Homo sapiens: one gene and its partners. The protein of the gene in region 3 interacts with the protein of the main gene of each other region in a biochemical or structural test. Each region holds a gene or a part of one and is shown on either strand. Other genes may lie near its edges.

Region 1 (7,101 bases), on a different chromosome or scaffold from region 3:
TAGGAATTGTGGGGATCTGAGATTAGGAAAATATCCCTTCTCATTGAATAAACCTTGACATTTGTGGAGCATTCAGAACTCTATGCCTTCTTTTGATTTCCCAAATTCATGTTTGCATTTGACATAGGAGCTCTAAGGCATGTGGACAAGTGTCGTATTGTATTTGACAGATGAGGAAACTAAGGCCAAAGGTTTGGCCAAAGTCACCTGGTGGGTTAGCAGGGGACCCCTCCATGCAGCTTTCCGTTGTGCCATACCTACTAGTCCCCACTAAGGTCACATGAGCCTTACTTGTTAGCAGGCCACCAGGTCACCCTCCAATGCCACCTGCCCTCTGGGGTACTTTATTCCATAAGGTGCCCACATCAGGATCTTCCCTCAAGCTGGACAGGACAACTTCAGGCACACCACAGTGTTCCCAGAGCAGACCCTCAATAAGAATCCCTGCCCTTTGGTACAGTGGCTCACGCCTGTAATTCCAGCACTTTGGGAGGCCAGGGAGGATAGTTCGCTTGAGGCCAGGAGTTCGAGACCAGCCTGGCCAACACCGTGACATCCCGTGTCTACTAAAAATATAAAAAATTGGCCAGGCGTGGTGTTGCATGCCTGTGGTCCCAGCTACTTGGGAGGCTGAGGCACGAGAATTGCTTGAACTCAGGAGGTAGAGGTTGCAGTGAGCCGAAATGGTGCCACTGCATTCTAGCCTAGGTAACAGACTGAGACCCTGTCTCAAAAAAAAAAAAAAAAAAAAAAAGACAGAAAAAAAGAAGAAAGAATCCCTGCCCCTGCCCTTTGGGAAGGGGAGGGCTATTTGTGTGCTCTCAGGACCATGTCTCAAACATCAGCACTGGCAGTGAGGAGCTTTCACCCTTCTACAGAGCAGTAAGGGACTGGAAAGAACAGACACAGCCCAGGCCCTCATCCCTCCCATTCCTGTATCCATGCACAAGTACCACATGGGTTTTTAGGAGTTTGGACCACAATCAAGGATAAGAAGAAAGCATCCCTGACCTTAAAGAGCTAGGGAGACATAGGAGCAAATCCTTTCAATATGGTGTGATAAATGACAGGGTAACAGTGTGATCACAGAGGAGGGAGAAAACAGGGAAAATGAAGGGACAGTCATGTTTCGGGGGCAACTGGGAAAGAAGAATAGGAGAAGCTCCTGAAATGGGCCTCAGAGGATGCACAGAAATTTGCAAAGTGGGAACAGAGAGCCCAGGAGGGATTGCAGTGTTGGGCAGAGTCTCAGGTCTGGAGTGAGAAAGCTTGAGTTCCAGTCCCAGCTCTGCCACTCACTAGTTGTGTGATCCTGGGCAGGTCACTTTACCTCTGTGAATCTTAGTTTCTGTACTTGTAAAACAGGAGTTGTCCTGACACCACCTTTAAAGGTGGTTGGGGACAGTCAGGCTAGACAATACTTTTGAAAGTGGTTTTTAAACTGTAAACAAAAAGAATGTCAGTTCTTAGTTGCTGGGGATATCTATATTTACTACTCCTCTGGGGAAGGGATGAAGATATCCCGAGGGAAGATAGACCCATGTGCTGGGGTCAAACTCATGGCCTCTGTCCTGGGAGGGCCTGGCTGGGAACAGGGAGATTCCTTGTTTCCCTAAGCCTGGAACCCATTTCTAGGACACAGAGGGCCCATTGGCACCCGGCTTACCTGCAGCTTTGATGGAGGACTTACGAGCTGTGTGCCGTCTGAGATCCACAGCCTGCTGTACCTGGAAGGCCCTCAGGTCCTCTTCGTCCAGGGCAATGTCCCCAAGAAAGGCAGCTAAAGAGAAAAGAAGAAGCCAGGGCTGAGTTAATCCTCCTACCCAGCCCTAGGTGCACCGTGCTTCTAGCCCCAACCCTGTGGGCACCAGCCCCCAACCTCCACAGCGACTGTGATCCTCAAATGCCATCTGAACGAGAAGGAGAAGGGCAGTTAGGGATCAGCTTATAGAATTTCTTGGGAAGCTCATGCTTACTTTTCAGTTAAAATCCCAGTAAAGCTGATGCTCAGCCCCTACCAGTCTGTTAGCTCATCATTCTTTGGGGAGTGTGGGGCAGATAGGGTCTCACCACTGTGCCCAGCTAATTATTTAAAATTAGCAGGGTCTTGCTATGTTGCCCAGGCTGGTCTCAAAATCCTGGCTTCAAGTGATCCTCCAGCCTCCTCAGCCTCTCCAGTGGCTGGGAATACAGGTGTGAGCCACAGAGCCATCATTCTTCAGCAAATACTTAGTTAACATACTACTGTGGTCCAGACAATACCCTAGTTATTAGCAAGACAGAAGAGGCCCCTGCTTCGGTGGAGCTAACCTTCCATAATATGCAAGTAAATAAATACTGACCTAGGGTCTTCCAGATAGCAATGGGAGCTATGAAGAAAATAAAACAGGGTGTGCTGAGCATGTGGTGGTCACTCAGCAAATGCTGTTTCAATTTAACTAAGGGGGTGTCTATGAGATAAAATAAGCCAGGTGCAGTGGCTCACACCTGTAATCCCAACACTTTGGGAGGTCGAGGTGGGTGGATCACTTAAGCTCAGGAGTTCAAGATCAGCCTGGGCAACATGGTGAAACCCCGTCTCTATAAAAAATACAAAAATTAGCCAGACATGGTGATGCATGCCTGTAGTTCCAGCTACTCACTCAGGAGGCTGAGGCAGGTGGATCAATTGAACCCAGGAGGTCAAGGCTGCAGTGAGCTGAGATGATGCCACTGCAATCCAGCCTGGGCAACAGAGTGAGACCCTGTCTCAAAAAAAAAAAAAAAAAAAAAAAGAGGAAATAAAATTGTACCATTTTTCATTAGAACAGATAAGCATCTTTGGGAAACGAAGATACCTTCTGGGAGCTTCCCAGCTAGGAGGAAAAAGTTTAACAGTTCTCAAGTAATTCCTATTCCAAGTCTTAGGCTGCCCAAGCAGAAAGGCCAGAGGGGAAGAGAGCCTCCCTAAAGGGCCATTCCGATTCCAGTATCTGGAGCTGAGGAGGGATGTTTCCAGAGACCCGGCTGAACTGTCTGTCTTCCTTTTGAGAAGTCTGGAGAAAAGGAAGCAGAGGCCATAGAACTGGCCGCTTTGTAAGGCGCTCAGATGGGAGCTGCATGCTGAGCTGGGCTGGGCTGGGGGAAGTGGGAGGCTGGGCTACAGGTGGGACCCACAGCAGCTTCCCTGCAGCTCCACCCACAGCAACATCTGCTTCTCATCCAGGCAGAGTGCTATACAGGCCTGGCGGTCGCGTTACACAAATTGTTTTAACCTTGAAGACTTCTACACAGGTTTCTCCTCCCCAGTTGGCCTCACTGGTGAACACACACACACACTGACTTCATCACATACAGAATCAGACACCCAAGGTTAGTGTTCCTACAGACATATGGTGGCGTCCACACCCTTGCCATCCAGTGCAGAGCCATCAAAGCCAGGGACACACATCCTTGCGCATGAAAGCAGCAGCCAGCACTGCACTTTCAGGCGGGAGGCACTCCGGGATGTTCGAATGAATGAATTGCCACGCTGATATTCTTCTGGCTTGCAAATACATGCCCAGAGACACACCCTCACCTAGACAGGATCAACAGAATGTGGGAGTGACTGTGGCAGTCATCGAGGCCAAACTTCCATTTTATAGATGAGGAAACTGAGGTCCCAAAAGCAACAACTTAACTGAACCTACACTGCTAGTCACTGGAAAACTGGACGTATAACTCAGGCCTCCCCATTCCCAGTGCAGCAACCACTGCACTCTCTAGAACCCCTACTGTAAATACATATATACAAAAATAGATACTCAGACGGACACATCCACAACAAAATACACACACAGTCACACACGGTTTTTAAAAAACACACATGCACAAGCTCCAACATACACAAACCAGCTGCAAGCTCTGGACCCATTAAGCAAATAATAGTCGTGATAATGACACCTTATGTAAATGTTGAAATTTTTGTGGTGCTTTCCAATTGGCAAAGTGCTTTCCCATTAATTAATTTAATCCTGGCCTGCCCACAACATGCCCAGTAAGCCACACTCCACACCATGCTCTTGCAGAGCATTAGAAACTCTCAGAGAGAGATAACCTAAGTGGCTAGGTTTAGGTTCCAGCCCACCTCCCTGACTTTAGACATCAGAACACTTGAGCCTATGAAGGGCGATAACTCACTCAAGGTCACCAGCCAGTAAGTGACCCCAAATCTCTTCCAACCCATGAGAAAGCTACTCTTACTTGAATCGCCATCCTCGGCAGGTGGCCTTGGCTCAGCAACTGATGGGACGGCAACAGAAGATGCTTCCCAGGTGACATGCAAGAGTGGCCTTAACAAGGACATGGGATGGGAGGTACACTCCAAGGAAGAAGCAGTGGGTTCATACTCACCAAAGTTCACGTAGATGTGCATCTGCCACACGAATGCCTCCACACTTAGGCTTGTGTTATACCTTTCTTTCTTTTTTTTTTTGAAATGGAGTCTCACTCTGTCACCCAGGCTGGAGTGCAGTGGTGCAATCTCAGCTCACTGCAACCTCTGCCTCCTGGGTTCAAGCAATTCTCCTGTCTCAGCCTCGCCCAGCTAATTTTTGTATTTTTTTTTTAGTAGAGACGAGGTTTCACCTTGTTGATCAGGCTGTTCTTGAACTCCTGACCACAGGTGATCCTCCTGCCTTGGCCTCCCAAAGTGCTGGGATTACAGGCATAAGCTACTGTGCCCGTACACACATATTATACCTTTCACAGGCATTGTACCTGCAGGCTCCCACACCCAAACCCACAGGCATCACCGCATACAGGTGTGGCTGGACATTTAGACTCACCTTTGGACATAGAGCAAAGGGCAAGGTCTTTGGAGTCAGACAGACCTGTCTTGGAATCCAGGTTGGCTACTATTAGCTGACAAGTCATGTAAACTCTTCTAAGCCTCAGTGTTCTCCTACATAACAGAATCTGTCTCCTAGGATTACTGCATGAAATAAGACATATACACGAACCCCCAGCACAGAGCATGCAACACGGTACGCACCCACCAGCCACTTTAATATTATCCCAACACAACCCGTAAGCTCAAAGTCAGCTCTAGACCTCCTCAGGGAACGCTGGCTCACCCACACTCTCTGCCCCCACTCCTCCTTGAGTGAAACCCTGGTGCAGAGGCCACAGAACTGTGCTGGCCTGCGGGTCCAGGGCCAGTGTAGAACCAGGGCAGAGCAAGTGCAAGGCAGGGCAGGGCATGGCCCTGGCTGCTGAGCTCCTGGAGTGAGGATGTCATGGCTGAAGAATGCGTGGGAACCAAGTGGGGGTGGGGAGAGAGGAGATGGGCAGGAGAGCCTTAGGGGCAGGAGCTGGGCCTTGGGGCTCTGTGCTTTTGGGCTGCCCTCTGGGGAAGCGAGGGAATCTGGATGCTAAGGAGTCTAGGAGGTCTCTCCTTACTCAGAGGAAGCCCTGGGGTCACGGTCAGGGTAGTAGTTATTTTCAACACAAGATAAAAATTTTTTGTGTTGTTTTCCAGCTGTAAACCTGCCAGGAGCACTGTGGCTGAGCCCATCTGTGTGCTTGTGCCTGGGAAGAATCTCACTCTTTCAGGTCAACCTCTGGACTCCACCGTCTCCTCCCCCAGGGCATGGCAAGGCCTCCCCTTCTGGGGAAGTGGGGAGAGGAGGCTGGCTGGTGTAATGAGCCCCAAGGCTATATGTGCAGGACTGATGCATGTCCCACTGCACAAACGCAAGCTTCTAGCTGGGGGATGACACACTCAAACCCCTGCAAACATGTGGATGGACTTCATCACATGTGAACACTTCTGCAGAGGTGCATGTTTGCCTCCATGCCTGCATGTACTCAGGAAGACCGATCACAGGTGAACATGCTTGCCTACAAGGCAGCGACACACCCACGCATATGCACAAACACACACTCAACCACTTCCCCGTGCAGGATCTTGTGTTTTCAAACACACACATAACTGCAGGCATGCACCATGTTTCACAGGCCACACTCCCCAAAGGACAAGGGCGCACTTAGAAATGGACAGGGATGCACTTGTGTGAGACAAAGAGAGCGAGGGAGGGAGAGAGAGAGATTAGCTGACTCCCTTGGATCTCCTTAGGAGGTTCTTAGTGGACTGAGGAGTAGCGCTTCTACTCCCCCGACCGCAATATCTTCTCCCCAGATCTCTGGAGAAACTAGATTTTTTTTTTTTTTTTTTTCACAGAGTCTTGCTTTGTCACCCAGACTAGAGTGCAGCGGCACAATCATAGCTCACTACAGCCTCCAGCTCCTGGACTCAGCCTTGAACTCTCGAGCTCCAACTCCTCCCAGCTAAGCCTCCCAAGTAGCTGGGACTACGGGTGCATGACACCATGCCCAGCTAATTTTTAAATTTTTTTGTAGAGATGGGCATCTTGCTGTGTTGCCCAGGCTAGTCTTAAACTCCTGGCTTCAAGTGATCCTCCCACTTTAGCCTCCCAAAGTGGATTACAGGCATGAGCCACTGCCCCCTGCCTAGACTTCTTAAGAATCCCTTCTTCCTGGGGAACCCCACTGCCCCGCCCTGCCCCATGTAGGGCCCAGGGAGAGTACAAATTTTTTCCTCACCCCTTGCGGCACTGAAATAAGAAGGTGACTCAGGGGCAGGGGCCTGGGTGGGTGGGGTGACTCAGCTGTCTAGAGGGGGAATGTGGTCTGGTGAGAGGAGAGATTACTTCTCGACCTCAGAGGGTGTACCCTAATCCTCTATGGCTCTCTGATGTCCAAACCTTGGCCAGGCGTCCCCCTGGGTGGGATGGGGATGTGGGCTGGTAAGTGCTGCCCCTCCCGCTCCTGCAGACTCTGGGCTGTCAGATGAGGTTGAGGTGGTAGCAGGGGCCTCACTGGCACAGGGTCACTACCCAGCTCTGGGTGTGACATGCTTCTAGCCCCACCCCTGTGGGGTCAGGCCCCTGGGCTTCTCTGATTTTGGGATCAACTGTGTCCCAATTCCTGCCTCCAAGGTCTCTCCGGGGGGGTGTTGGCTAGTCACCTGGGGCAGCCAAACAGTGCTGGGAATCTTGCAGAAGGACCCCCTTCATGGTTTGGCTGATTTCCTGACATACAGGAAATCAGGCCTGCCTC
Region 2 (7,577 bases), on a different chromosome or scaffold from region 3:
CCTGTCAAGTCTCACAAAACTTGGCCGACTCTCCCCACAAATTATTGCAAAAAGCAATCACGTGACTGGAGTCAACCAATGGCGTGTAGAGGAGATGACCTCAATTTCCAAATATTGGGGTCATGTTTCATTTCCCATACTCTCCTTCCCCGTTACACTGTTCAGCAGCCCCAAATGCAATCTTACTTTTCATTCCTTCACACACTTGGCCAAAAGAAAGCAGGCAAAAGAACTGTGTTCAGAAAACCCTCAGAAAACATCTGGCAGATCCGAAGATGGAGAAGACAGCAGGCACTTGCTGGTGGCTCCCCCCCGCGCCTGCCTCTCCAGTGGACAGCCGCCCCCTCCCCGCCACGCCTGCATTTCCAGTGGACAGCCGCCCCCTCCCCCCAGCGCCTGCATCTCCAGTGGACAGCCGCCCCCTCCCCGCCACGCCTGCATCTCCAGTGGACAGCCGCCCCCTCCCCCCAGCGCCTGCATCTCCAGTGGACAGCCGCCCCCTCCCCCCAGCGCCTGCATCTCCAGTGGACAGCCGCCCCCTCCCCCCAGCGCCTGCATCTCCAGTGGACAGCCGCCCCCTTCCCCCAGTGCCTGCATCTCCAGTGGACAGCCGCCCCCTCCCCCCAGCGCCTGCATCTCCAGTGGACAGCCGCCCCCTCCCCGCCACGCCTGCATCTCCAGTGGACAGCCGCCCCCTCCCCCCAGCGCCTGCATCTCCAGTGGACAGCCGCCCCCTCTGGCCATGCTCGAAGGATGACTTCCAAATAGGTCCCACCCTGGGAGGTGGAGAGACGTTGGCAAAACTCACTAAGAAAAGTGGTCTCTCCACATGCTTCTAAAAGTCTGTTCTGACAAAAGCAAAATGTCCAACTCCATAGCCTGCTGCTCTGGGCCATCCTCACTCCCACTTCCAACGAGCCGCACTTCGATTAGCGAGGGCAACCAGAGAGGGAAAAAGACAGTGTGGAGGTGGGGAGATGGGCAGGGAGGGAAATGGAACCCCAAGCCCAGTCCGGTGCATGGTCCCCAGGCAGTGCCCTGCCCCAGCTGTCTAGGGTGACGATTCCCCTGAAGGACTCCCTCCTGAGTTTCTGGGGAAAAGTCCCCAGAGGCGCTGAGACAGGGCCTAGTCCCCCGGCAATGGCACAGTCCCTGACCACACCTTCCTTCTCCTCTCCACTTTTCTGGGGACCTCTGTTGTCCCCCACCTTCAGCTAACCCCTGGAGAAACACAAGCCCAGTTAGCCCAGGGTCAGGAGAGAGTTGGTGGCGGCCCAGGGATGAGATCCCAGGTCCTGGGAGCCAGGCCAGGCTCCTGGCTCCTCCCCCAGAGCCCCAGGGCAGCCCCCACACCCAGACTCCAGCTCATCCAGTTAGCCCAACAAGCACTGATCGTGCCAGGGAAAAAGGAAAAGAGTGTTTTAATTGACAAGCGGAACACGGACAATGATTCTTCCCACTTGTCTTCCAATCGTGAAGCAGAGAGAAGCATTCTTGCTGGCAGGCGGCGGGCTGGTCCAGACGTTCGCTGAGCCCACCGTCCCATCGCTCTGCCCGCCACTTCTCCTGACCTGGCAGCACACAGCTCTGAGCCTCCATCTCCCCGCCTGTCAATAAGGATTCGGGGGACCTTCCAGGGCTGGGGGCTCTGATGTTCGAGAGTCTGTGAAAACCCACCCCGCCACTAACTACCAAGAGCGATGCCTAGAAAAACTCCCCCGTCAGGAAGCTGCGCCAGGGAGAGTTGAACCCTCGAGAACCCAGGCAGGGACGCAGACAGTCCCCGCCTTGAAGCGCCCTCCCCGGGAAGCAAGCCTCCTTCTAAGGGCTGACCCTTGGCAGAAGGAATCCCACATCTGCATATCATCCCAACCACTCACAGCCCCGCCTGCAAGCCCATCTCTGGCTTTGCTCCACGCATCCCATCTCTCAGCAGCGAATCCAGGAAAAGCTGCCTTCCAGGGATCAAGAAGTTTGGGGGTGGGATTAGGAGCAGGGCTGTCTACCACCCTGCAGGGGTCCCCAGTGCCCCCGAACACTTAGGTGACCAAGGCTGCAGGAAACGCTGTCCCTGGGGAAAGCAGGGCGCCAGCTCAGCCTAGAGTGACAGTGCCTGGGGGAAGTTCAGTGCTGGGGGCCCAGGCTTCTGGGATTCCCCCCATCCCCAGGAGTCCCGGGATTTGAAGGGCTGTAACTCTAGGGGGCGGCCCTGCCCGGTTTGGAGCAGAGGAAGTTCTGCTGTAGGGCTGTGAGGGCCCAAGCTGGGCGCCTGTGATGTGGGACAGAGAAGGAAGGTTTTTGGGACAAAAGTTTGCCCGCCTCGTGGACAACCCCTCCTGCTGATCCAGCCCTCGGTCCTTCCTCGGCTCGCGCGACAGCCCCACCCGACCCGCCCGTCTGGGGAGGGGGCGGCGGCGCGCCCGCGGGCATTGTGTCTGCGTGTCGTCATCTCGGGGGGGCCCCCAGCAAATGGCATTCGTGGTCTTGGCCCGTGCATTCCACAGGCCAAGGAAGAAAAGTTCTGCGGGCGAAGGCGCCCGGGGATGACAGCGGCGCCCGGGCTGCGCGCGCCCCATCCCGCAGCCCCGCGCCCCGGGGCGCCCTTACCTGCGCGGCTCGGAGGCGGCGCCCACAGCAGCAGCAGCAGCAGCGGGGGCAGCAGCGGGGCGCCCGGGCGGAGCGCGCTGCGCGCTTTCCAGCGGGTATGGACGTCCATGCCGGCGGGGCGCGGGCCGGGGCGCACAGGGGCGCTCGGAGGCGCGCGGGGACGCACAGGGGCGCGGGTCACGGCCCGGGCAGCGCACTCAGCAGGGACCGCACCACTTTAGGAGGTCATGGGGACCTCGGCACCCCCCGTTCTTCTTTGTGGCGGCGGCTGTTCTGGAAGGGGCGGCTGGCGCGCTCGCCCACGGGCGGGAGGGCTCGACTTTGGCCCGCGGGGCGGCCGGGACCCCGCTGGGCTAGCTCGCCCTCGCCTCCTCCTCCTCCTCCTCCAACTCCTTCTCGCCTCCTCCTCGCCGCCGCCGCCCCGCGACCCGCTCCCCGTGGGCGCTCCGCTCGAGTGAGGTCCTGCGCCAGCCGCGGGGACGGAGAGTGCGGACCTCGCCTTCGGCGCGGAGCACTTTTTTCCCCCTTTTCCTCCCTCCCTCTCTCCTGGAAGGCAGCCGCGGAGGCTGTCGATCCCCAACGCCCGCAGCAAATCAGAGCCCGGCGCTGGGCTCGGCGAGGCCAGCCCCCGCCTCCCACTGGGCGCCGCGGGCGAGGGGGTGGGGACAGCGGGCGAGTCGCAGCGAGGAAGGGGCTGGCCCGGGGCGGAGCGGACGTGGGGCGGGCGCGGCCCCCTGTTCTTTCTCTGAGAGCCGGTAGGCGGGCGGGCCTGGGGCGGCCTCGGAGCCCAGGGGCCCACCCTGGTCCCCCCACTGTTCCCACCCCAGGTGCCCGCACCTGGCCATGCTCCAAGAACCAGTGCAGAGGGGCCCCGAGGTTTGATCACTTCGGGTTAAAAAGAAAGTTGCAGTTTACCCCGCCTAACTTTTTCTTTAACGTGGAGGAGTTCAGAGCTCCTCTTCTGGGTGGAGACTAAACTTCCCATCCAGCCAGATCAGGGCGCCCAAGACTGTGGCCTACGTGTCAACCCGGACCGAGGACCTGCCTCCTAACTGCAGATTGGCACGGGACCGAGCTGGGGTCTGACTTCCCAAGAGCTCCCGGGACCTCCATGTGCTTGGACGGGAACATCTGGGTTATTAATCAGGCGAAGTTTGGCTCTGCGGCCCCCAGGCTCTCACCCCTCACTCCTGCCCACTCCCTGGTGGCCCCTCTGCAATAAAAAGGAAACCAAAGAAGGCATCCCCTTGGGAGTGACAGCTGGCGCAGGGAGAAGGCATTCCTGATCGGCTGCTCTCGGAGAAGAGCTGGGGCCCTGATTCTCCTGCCTGGCTTCTTTAAGCCCCTCGGGGTCTCCTCCAGCAGGAGGCCCGCCAGTCTCTGGGTGGTAGGTGGGCGTCTCTCCCTCCAGCTTCCCCAGGCCTGGCCTCCCTGCACAGCCTCCTGAAGCCTGACCCACACCCCTTCCCCAAGGGCTGCAGGGCTAGTTTTTTAAAAGGAGGGAATCAGAATGAATTAAGAACGATTTGCAAACCCTGGGCCATCCCCATTCCCTTTGAACAAACAATTTAGCCAGAGATGCCAGACAGGGCTGGGACTCCCCTCTCCAGTTACATCTCCAGACTGGGCGTGAAATTCCCCAAATGCTCTTTAATTCTCACCATTCTGGAAACAGGAGGTGAGAGAGGCGTCCGAGGTTAGGTTTGCCAGGATAGCCATGGCAGGCTCCGGAGCTGGGTGATAGGTCGCTGTTGCTAACTTGGTGATGAGGCTTTTAGTCTCCATATCTGCCACATGCGCTTGCATAGATATCAAATATTTCGCAGGAAAAGAATGAGAAGCTCTTCACACACAGACGTGGGGAGGTGCTTGAGATACATTCAGTAAAGCAAATGTTAGTTCTGACCTGTTTCCTTGTTGATTTTATTTTGTTTTACAACTTGTATAAGGCATATGTGATCAGGCAAAAATGTGTGTGAGTTGTGTGCATGTGTGTGTTTGTGTGTGTGCCTGTGTGCGTGTCTGTGCGTTGGTTAACCTGCAGCCACTGGCCCTTTACTTTCCCTGTGGACTTCAATGAGTGAGAAATTCCATCAAACCCCAGACTCCGCGCCAGCCCCAGCTGTGCTTGGTCCTTGGAGTGCCCCCGCCCCTACCAGCAAGGCCAGCTTCACCCCTGAAGACTAGGGGTGCTGACACAGGCCATGGCCTGGTTATCAGAAGAGAGTGGAGGCTTTCTGGTTCCAGCTTCTTTTTCCCCAAGCACAAGTGGAGTTCCTTTCTGACAGTCCCATGTGCACATCCGTGCCAGTCAGCAAGCCCTCCTGTAACTCACAGCCAGCATCTAAACTTTGCCCTGAATTAACACAACTGGCGCCTTAAGAGCTGACACTCAAGTGACCACCCCAAGGTCCCCCAAAAGTTGACTTCTCAGCAATGGTAAGATGGCTCAGTCTTGCAGCTCAAGCAGCCATGACAGATGCACTTTATCCTCTCTTGGAGAGCAAGTGGTGCGGTGGCTTGGAAAGCTGTCAAATGTGAGTTTCCACCCTCATCTGAGCCTTGAGTTGGGTGGAGAGATGAGTTTCTATCCCACCAGGAAACTCAGAGAGAAGTCCCCAAACTTGGCGGCCTGATGTGTCAGCCAGGGACTATGGCAGAATGGCCCGGCAGTACCAATCAGGATTCGAACTGTGTTGCCAAGCTAAGAATATCAGCCACATCTTAAGGCTTTTGCCTCACACTCTTCACCCACACGTGCATCAGTTCTCATGCACCGGTAGGGAATACTGGCATCTCTCCCATCCACAGATGAGGAAATCAGGGGCCACAGAGGGTAGGGGACTTACCCAGTTCATCCGTGACAGGGTCCGGATTTGGACCCAGGTCTCCATGCTTGGAGCCCAGTGTGCACTGCCTGCCTCCCCATGGCATCCGGACCACACGCCTGCCGCCAGGACCACCCTGCCCAGATTCAGACAACAGCAACTGGTGCAGATTGTCCCAAACTCACCATGTTCCATGCCCTCCCACAACTGAGCAAAACCAGAGTCCTTGGAAAACTGCTTATTGCGCGCATACTCCTTGCCAACACCGCTCTAGGCTTTAGGGAGTATGTGGTGAGCAAGGTGCCTGGGTCCCTTCCACATTGACCTGCAATGCAGCAGTGACTCCCACGCCCATGCAGAGGTGGCCCCTTTTTTGCATGTGTGTCTTCCTTGTCTTCTGCTATCCATCGTTTCCCATCTAGCCCTCCCCGGCTGCCTGCTCCTGTTCATGGCACTCACCGCAGAAGGCTAACCAGGTCCTGTACCCTGTGTACTCCTGGGCCACCGGGAGCGCCACCACCCATCACTGCGTGTTTCCCACAGTGCCTAGCAGAGAGTGGAGCAGGCCAGGTGCCCTGCACCTTACACGTGGAGTCCGATGGCCCAACTTCTCCTTCCAAGGCTGTGTTTCCTCTCATTTATTTTTCGAGCGGCAGAGCTGTGGTCCGGACAGAGCGGCCATGGCAACCATCAGGTGTTGCTCTCATGTGGACCTGATGGTTCACCACCAGTCCTGAGGGGTCACACCAGCCTCCCAGAGTCACGTCTGGCTGGAAAATGGCCAGCTGCTTCCCAAGACAAAGGCCTTGAGGGGCAGCCAGATTGTCCCTTCTTCTTCTCCTAGACCCATGGAGGAGGTGGAGGAACAAGGTCTTCTTGGAGTGCCTGGAGGCAGATATCTGCTTGCCCTCTAAGCATTTATGGTCCAGAGACTGCTGAAGTGGGCCCAGGAGGGCCTGGGTGAGCCACGGCCTGGCAGAGGGGCTGGAAGCTGCCCCACTCTGTCCCATGCAGGGGAGGAGTTCCCTCTAGCTGCGCAAGGAGAATGCTCTGAACCTGCATCCGGCACCTGGGGCTGCAGCTGTGTCCTTCAGCTGATGTCCTGGGACCAGGCCAACTCCAGAGTCACACAGACTTCCGTTAGAATCCCAGCAGCACCAGCCACTAGCCACATGACCTTGGGCAAGAGGATTCTGTCTCTGAGCCTCAGTTTGTTATCTGTGAATGGGCGGTGAAGAAACTGACCGCTGGGGGGTCCCTGTGAAGCTCAGATGAGAAGGTAGGTGAGGGAGGCCTGGCCACAGTCCCCTCCCTCCCTGCTCCCTGCCGCTGGGCACTCATCCTCTTCTGCCTCCTCCAAGCCCCCTGCCGCCTTCCAGGGCTTCACCTGCTTACCTGCATCATCTCATTCAATGGAGCAACAACCCTTTGAGGCAGGAGGAAGCTGAGGCTCGGAGAGGTGAAACTATTTGCTGGAGGCTGAACAGCAAGGGTGTGGCTAAACCCAGTAGCCCGGAACGCAGCCCTTAACCACCGTGCAGCCTGCACACCAGCAGCAGAGCAAACCAAGGAGGCGCCGGGTCCGAGGGCCGGCCCGCGGCTGACCGCATGTCCTGCCGGTTCCAGGGGCCCAGACCCCCACTGGCCCTAGTTTACCTTCTGACCCATTGGCCTTGACCACTGCTCCATGTGAGCTGTGGCTTCTCAGCAGACCAGAGGCCACCGCTGTGCCCACAGAGCCAGCAGGACTCTCCCTACGTACTGGAGCGGGGCAGATGGGAGGGAGCCCCTTTCAAGCCAGCACTCTCTTTGAAAAATTACTTGGGGAAGGCCGCCACTTTAAAGCCCTTGGACAAAGCATGTCCTTCATTGCCTTGTTTTTGCAGCCTTCTTCAGCCTGTGTCTGCCAAGTGGAGAGTAGAGGAGAGGGTGAGAGAGGGGCCGGGGCCATGCCCCAGGTCACCAGGCTTCCCGGGTGTGTGAGTCAGCTCGGCGGCCACAGCAGAGTGCCACAGATGGGGCAGCTTAGACAGCAGGGATTTATTCCCTCACAGTCCTGGATGCTGGAAGTCCGAGGTTGAGGTGACGGCAGCACTGGTTTCAGCCAAGGCCTCCCTCCTCGGCCTGCAGTCGGCACCATCC
Region 3 (6,992 bases):
TTTTTACATTTTTGTTTGCGTGCATGCAGGGGTTGGGGCTGTTTTGGGTGCCCACCAGCGCAAGCGCAGTGCTCGGGACACAGCAGATCTTCAATAAATCTCTGCTGGCTGCAAGCTGGAGGGCGCCGCCTGGGTCCCCTAGGGCAGCCCGGGGAGGAGGGTCGGTACCTGGTCCGGGGGCGCGATGATGTGCCAGGAACAGCTGATGCCCGGGGGGTAATCGGACTCGGGCCAGTTGGGCGTGGTCAGGGTTCCCTGGGCCTTCTCCAGCCGCCCCCCGCAAAATTGGTGCTCTGGGGAGGGGAGAGAGGAGCGGGGGTGGGGGGCGGTGGAGACCCTCGGTCAGCTTCAGGAGAACTCTAGGCTGGGAGCCCCGGCAGGCAGCTCGGATGTCTGGGGCTCAGGATGAGGGGACGAGAAGAAGGGGAGGTAAGATGGGGGCAGGTTAACAGAGAGCGGCCGGGAGGAGCGCGGCTCGGGGAAGTCTGGGGCCGCAGGGCGCACTGGCGGGCGGTGGAAGCGGGAGGAGGAACTGGCTGGACGCCCCCTTCTGGCCCCTCCCCGACCCGCGGCCGCACCGCGCCTCTTCCCCTAGGAGATCCCATCTCCCCGGCCCTGCAGCAGAGTCCCCTTTCAGGCTGGAGAGGGTGTCCTCGACTTGGGGCACAGCCCCCGAGGACCCCTTTAGGGAGGTCCCCGCCTGAAACATTGCAAGGGAGACTTCTGCCGCCAGGAGGGGGTGATGGGACCGCAATCGGGAGCCCAGGGCTGGGTGTAGGGGCCCCCCGGGGTTGGAGGAACCTAGTCCCCCCAGCCCTGGGGTGCCCCCTCGCGCCCGACGGAGGGAGCCCGATTGCGGACGGGGGCCGGCAGTTACTCACCGTCCCAGTAACCCCAGGCCGCCCATTCCACCCGCGGGTCGGTGACCCATTTCCGCCTCGCGCCTGGGGGGGGCCCTGGAAGAGGGATGGGTGGGTGCGGGAGGAGGGGAGAGAAGACGGGGAGGAGGGACTGAAGGGGCGGTTAGTGAGGAAAATGGGTCAGGGAGGTAGGGGGCCCTAGGCACTGGGGCGCGGGGTGGGCGGGGCGGAGGTTAGGGCTGGGGGCGGGGCTGCGGCCGGGGCGGGGCCTGGAGGGGGGGAAGGCGGAGGTGAGGGAGTTCTCACCAGTGCCCGAGGTGGCCCGCCCGCTGTACCAGAGCAGGAAGCCTCGTCCTCCTGTGCCCTCATCCGTCGTCATCCTCAGGGTCACCTGGTTGCCGGGGGCGACTAGGGGCGCAGGCCGGAAGGTCCCACAAAAGCGTCCGAGCCGCTGGCCGGAAGTCCCAGACCCAGCGAAGACCTCCAGAGCATCGTAGCGGCAGGCGGGGTGCAGCTCCAGGTCGAAGACTCGGAATGAGAGGGACACAGTCTGGCCCTCGGGGACCTGATAGCGGGGACAGAGGCGGGGACCCACAGAGTCAGGCCCCACACAACCCAGCCAGAGGGCAGCTCCCCTGCCCCAAGCGTTTCTTGCAGAAACGGACTGAATGGGAAGGGGCCTCCATGTGAGTGCAGAGCAGAGGGCCTGGTCTCTGCAGCTCTGCTGGTAGCCTGTGCAGGGGACAAGAGCTGAGGCTTTGGAAGAGGAGGGAGGGCCGGGGACTGGAGAATGAAGATTTGAGGGAAGGGTTAAGATGATGCGTGTTACGGTGGGAATGATGCCTTCAGTGACAGAGGGAAGACACTTGGAGCTGCCCCAGGTTGAGAAGGTGGTGCGGGGGGGACGGGGGGGGGGTCCCTTCGCAGTCAGGCCTTTTTGCCTCTGAGACTTTAACAAGGGGTAGTGCCCAGAGGGGTTTCTCACCGTTATGGTCCAGATGCACTCCTTATTAGGGGGGTAGAGGTTGGGGAACCCCTCACTTGCCACGTAACCTGATTCCCCCTTCACATCCCCTCCGCACAGGAACACGGGTCTGGAGAACAGAAAAGGGGTCAGGAAAGAGCAGGGACGGGTGGGACGGGGGAGCACTGGCAAGATGGGGATGAGGTGATGAGGATGAAACTCCAAGGAGGGAAGCTGGGGGATGAAATGGAAAGGCCTTGAGAGACCTGGGGCAGCTTCCACCAGCCAGGACAGGGCTGGGGTGTCCCAGACTCCCACAAAGATAAGGGAAAAGTGGGCCTGGCAACTCGACCATCCCTCCAACCCCAAGAGTCCCCACCCCCACCCCAACAGGAATTCCCGGAATCCTCCTCGGCCCCCCTTCCAGACTCCCGCCTCACTCTGCCTGGCAGTCCAGGGACAGGAGCCGCCTAACTACTTCCAGATGTGGACACAGCCACGAGGCGGTGGGGGGGAGGGGGTGGAGAGATGGAGGGAGCTGCAGTGGCGATGGCCCTCTGATTGAACCTGGAGGCCAGGCTCCGCGAGCTCCACACCTTAGCCCTGCCCCTGTTCCAAACTACTTCAGATTCTGACTCCCAAGTCTCCACTCACTGCCCCCTCCTCCCCCTACAATCCCTCTCGAATTCCTTCCTGGAATCCAGCTACCAGGCAAGTTCAGGAGCTTGGCTCTCTCTTGGGTTCTATGGGGGGTCAAGGATCTGGGTGGGTGGGGAGACTTAAGAGACCAGAGGACGAAGGTGGGGGAATGGGAGCAGTGGTGGCCTGCAGGAGACCAAGGTCTTGCAGCAGATGGGGAGGATTTGGGGGCCAGAGAAGGGTGAGGCGGTGGGGAATCTGGGGAGTGGTGTGTCAGCAAGGGAACCCAAAATATCTCCAGGCATAACCCCAAAGGAATCGGGGGTCTGAAGTTCACTGGAGCTGTCTGGAAGATGCCAAGAGACCTACCTGGTGTAGTTGGGGGTCTGGCCCTGGGCAAAAGGCAGCAGGGCGCAGGCAGTGAGGAGGGGCCCCAGGAGGGAGGCTGTGGCTGCAGGCAGCATGGCCCCGGGGGAAAGGCGCTGGGGTCCTCAAGACAGAGGCAGCAGCTGAATTTTGCAGAGCAGCAGCAGCGGTGGCGGCAGCAGCAGGATAATCAGCGCCAGATGGGGCAGCCTTGGGTGTGTGGGCGTGGGGACTGGCCAGTGGGGCGGGCAATGGGGAAGGCGGGACAGTGGCGTGTCCTGGGACCTCTCTAGGTCTAGGACACATAAATGTTGACCTTAGGAGGGGGAGGAGCAGTGAGGGGCAGAGGCCGTCTCCCAGGCCTCAAGTAACGTCATCGGGAACCCCACTCTGTCCAGTGAGGGAGTATCTCCGGGAACTTCTGAGGACTCCCTAGCCCCCATCCTCCCCCCGCCCCTGCTTCCTCAGCTCAGGAGCCCTCATTGCTCACCCCCTGCCTGACCACCCCTGCCAGCTCATTTTCCACTTCAATTTCTTTTTTTTTTTTTTTTTTTTTTTGAGACAGAGTCTCATTCTGTGACCCAGGCTGGAGTGCAGTGGCGCGATCTCTGCTCACTGCAACCTCCGCCTCCCGGGTTCAAGCAATTCTTGTGCCTTAGCCTCCCGAGTAGCTGGGACTGCAGGTGCATGCCTCCACACCTGGCTAATTTTTGTATTTTTAGTAGAGGCAGGGTTTCAGCATGCTGTCCAGGCTGGTCTCAAATTCCTAGCCTCAGGTGATCCGCCCACCTCGGACTCCCAAAGTGCTGGGATTATAGGCGTAGCCACCACACCTGGCCTCCACTTCACATCTCCATTGCCTTCTCTCCAGACCTGGGCCAGACTAGGCCAAGGAGAAGGAATTCTCACCCATGACCTCTTCCAACTACTTGAAGGTACAGGAAGCAAGGCAGGAGGCATGGGGTGTGGATGAAGGGAGTGTCCTTGTTACTCAGGAAGAGGTGGAAGGAGTAGAAAATAGAGCCCAAACCTGGGAGGTAAACAGAAGGGAGAGAGGAGGGGGGCTGGCTTCAGGCCGAAGGGAGATGGGTGGGAAGCTTTCGGGGGTCAGGAGGAACAGGCTGCCTCAGGATGGGGACAAGTCTAGTGGGCAGGGGATCCCAGTGGGGTAGCCAAGAGCATCTGTGCATAGAGTTGTTCCAGAAGGTAGGGCCAGAACTTCCCAGTCCAAACGACCAGGTGTGCTCTTGGGAGCAGGGAGTGGACAACAATGTGAAGGGTTCAGGCAGCATCAGCTCTGCTGCACCTGAGACCTGGAGCTGCTTGTGCTGCCTGCCCCTGCCTGGGCTCCTGCCCTCCTGCACCCACCAAGCCGGGCACCCACCCACCCCATCCCTGCCCCTGTCCCTCCCAGCCCCCAAGGCTTCCACACCAGGCCTCGCTGCAGCCTTTTATTCTATCCATCAAATCTCTTGTCCATGATAGTCAGGTTGGGGGCCCCTCCTGGGCAGCCCCCTGAACATTCTTACCCTGGTTAGCCGTCCCCACCCCCTAGCAACCCCTTCCCACACGCATGTGCACAATGGTCATTGCTCCTTAGTCCCTGGCCTGGGGCCGGACTCCCTCCTCCAGGGACTAGGCTAGCATGAGGGGGATTAGGTCTCAGGGGCTGGGGGCCCTACACCACCCCCGCCTCCTTCAGCCCTCTGCAGCATGTCCAGGGCCTCCCAGAAGAAGTCCTTCTGTGCGGCCATCAGGGGCATCCACCCTACGATCTCCTTCATCTTCTCCGTGCGGTCCTGCAACGTTTGGCAACTGTGGATCTGGCTGAGGTACTCCTCGCAGGCCTGGGCCATCCCCCCGGGGTCCTGGGGTGCTCTGGCCCCCAGGCTGGGCTCAGGAGTCCCCACCACCCTGCTGGCTGGCAGGTGGCGATAGGGGGCGTGCTGCTCAATGTCGTGGCTGGACAGGATGTATAGGCACTCCCTGGTGGCACAGAGGGCACAGGCACACAGAGGGACCTTGGAGGAGGAGAGAAAGGGGGCATGGCTGAGTGGTGCTTTCCTTGCAGGGTTTCCCAGGGTGCCCGGGCTAATCTGCCTATTGCATTCTTCCCTCTCACACCAGCCCTGAGCCGGCTAAGTCCCAGGGGTGTGTGAGGTTGGGCAAGGCCAGCACAGTCTGCTAAGGGAGAAAGCAGAGAGCGTGGTGTGCGGCAGAGGAGGGAGGTGGGGTGGTGCTAGGGAAATGGGACCCCCTGGGTCCCTGCAGGAGCCCCAGCTACAGCCTGTGGGCTTCCTGGTTCATGGCTCTCATCCTCCCTGGGTGCCCACTCTCCTGACCCCGCTCTGACCTTGACTTGGAGCTTGACGAAGGAGGCACTCCCCTTGGGCCAGCCTGGGAGGCGGCCCCCAGCCCCACAGCCGCAGCCCAGCAGCTCCTTGCTGAACTCTGAGCTCTGGCTCAGCACCAGGGAGTGGTTGAGGCCGCACCACAGGGTGATGGGCCGCTGCAGGTAACAAACCTGGGGACACACGGCCAGGGTCCCTGAGCAGGGAGCACCAAGGGACGGGGGGGCTGGGGTGGGAAAAGGTTGACTGGAAGGCTCGGGGCAGAATGAACTGGGGAGGAGGAAATGGGAGCCAGCACTGTCCCACGCCCCAGGTCTGCCCTGCTGACCCCTGCAGCCCCCATACTCTAACTGGTCACATAGGGTCTTGCACTTCTGTTGGTATCTCATCTATGCCCCCAGAAAATCAGCTCCTTGCCTGAGCCCAGGGCCTGCTGTGGTGTACCCCTCATTCTCAGCCCACCCGTCTATGCCAGTCCAGCCTCTCATCCTGCCTGCCAGCCTCGGGGAGACTTGCTTCTTGTGCAATTCCAGGTTAGACCCCAACACCACCCTGAGGAAGGACTTTCCCTTCCACTATCCCTCCCTTCCTGCTCTAGTATTATCTTTTCTTTCTTTCTTTCTTTTTTTTTTTTTTGTTTGAGACAGAGTCGGAAGGCTGGAGTGCAGCAGTGCGATCTCGGCTCACTGCAACCTCTGCCTTCCTGGGTTCAAGTGATTCTCCCACCTCAGCCTCCCAAGTAGCTAGGACTACAGGTCCTTGCCACCACACCCATCTAATTTTTGTATTTTTAGTAGAGAAGGGGTTTTGCCATGTTGACCAGGCTGGTCTCGAACTCCTGACCTCAGGTGATCTGCCTGCCTTGGCCTCCCAAAGTGCTGGGATTACAGGCATGAACCACTGAGCCCAGCCTCCACTCTAGCATTTTTATTTTCTCTTTTCTTTTTTTAGAGATGGGGTCTCATTCTGTTGCCCAGGCTGAAATGCAGTGGTGCAATCATAGCTCACTGCAGCCTTGACCTCCTGGGCTCAAGCCATTCTTCTGCCTCAGCCTCCTGAGTAGTTGGGAATACAGGCATGTGCCACCACACCCGGCATGTGCCTATAATTTTTAAATTTTAAATTTTTAAATTTTCTATAGAGATAGTGTCTCACTATGTTGCTCATGGTGATCTCGAACTCCGGGCCTCCCACCTCAGCCTCTAGCATTTTTTTTTTTTTTGTAGAGACGGAGTCTCGCTCTGTTGCCCAAGCTGAAGTGCAGTGGCACGATTTCAGTTCACTGCAACCTCCGCCTCTCCAGTTCAAGCAATTCTCCTTCCTCAGCCTCCCGAGTAGCTGGGACTATGGGTGCACACCGCCACACCTGGCTAATTTCTTTTGTATTTTAGTAGAGACGGGGTTTCACCATGTTGCCCAGGCTGGTCCCGAACTCCTGGGCTCAGGCAATCCACCTGCCTTGGCCTCCCAAAGTGCTAGGATTACAGGTGTGAGCTAGTTGAAATGCTTAGCCTAGCATTTTCAACTTATCACATAATTCTTTTCCAAAATGGCCACCCTGTTTTTGAAAAAAAAGCTTCTACTTGCTTCCTGCCGCTTCCTGCCTCTCTCTCTTAAGCAGCAGAGTTGGTTACATGACCAATCTGAGGCTGACCACATTACTGTTCCTTCCCACAGCCAGTCTATCCAGCACCTCCCTGGGATCTCGCTTTTCTCTCTATTACATTACTGACATGCTCTCTCTAGAGGCACTTGGCCTCTCAGTGGCTAAATCCCAGGGCGTCTTCTGCCCCCTCATTCTCCTGAGCCTGT

What was found.
Region 1: the proteins of PCOLCE (region 3) and BMP1 interact in a biophysical measurement, tested with the Homo sapiens proteins (one study listed by IntAct).
Region 2: the proteins of PCOLCE (region 3) and COL5A1 interact in a biophysical measurement, tested with the Homo sapiens proteins (one study listed by IntAct).

What each region holds. Positions count from the first base shown.
Region 1 is NC_000008.11:22,168,281-22,175,381, reverse strand, and holds part of BMP1 (bone morphogenetic protein 1 isoform 3 precursor), read right to left. Parts: intron 1,781-7,101; coding exon 1,667-1,780; intron 1-1,666. UniProt on the Homo sapiens protein: Metalloprotease that plays key roles in regulating the formation of the extracellular matrix (ECM) via processing of various precursor proteins into mature functional enzymes or structural proteins.
Region 2 is NC_000009.12:134,637,327-134,644,903, reverse strand, and holds the start of COL5A1 (collagen alpha-1(V) chain isoform 1 preproprotein), read right to left. Parts: upstream 3,102-7,577; 5' UTR 2,717-3,101; coding exon 2,608-2,716; intron 1-2,607. UniProt on the Homo sapiens protein: Type V collagen is a member of group I collagen (fibrillar forming collagen). It is a minor connective tissue component of nearly ubiquitous distribution. Type V collagen binds to DNA, heparan sulfate, thrombospondin, heparin, and insulin.
Region 3 is NC_000007.14:100,598,392-100,605,383, reverse strand, and holds the start of PCOLCE (procollagen C-endopeptidase enhancer 1 precursor), read right to left. Parts: upstream 3,022-6,992; 5' UTR 2,928-3,021; coding exon 2,833-2,927; exon of another isoform or gene 2,218-2,832; intron 1,955-2,217; coding exon 1,846-1,954; intron 1,547-1,845; exon of another isoform or gene 1,426-1,546; coding exon 1,167-1,425; intron 294-1,166; coding exon 169-293; intron 1-168. Other genes in the region: FBXO24 (F-box only protein 24), read right to left, coding at 4,485-4,850, 5,183-5,353. UniProt on the Homo sapiens protein: Binds to the C-terminal propeptide of type I procollagen and enhances procollagen C-proteinase activity. C-terminal processed part of PCPE (CT-PCPE) may have an metalloproteinase inhibitory activity.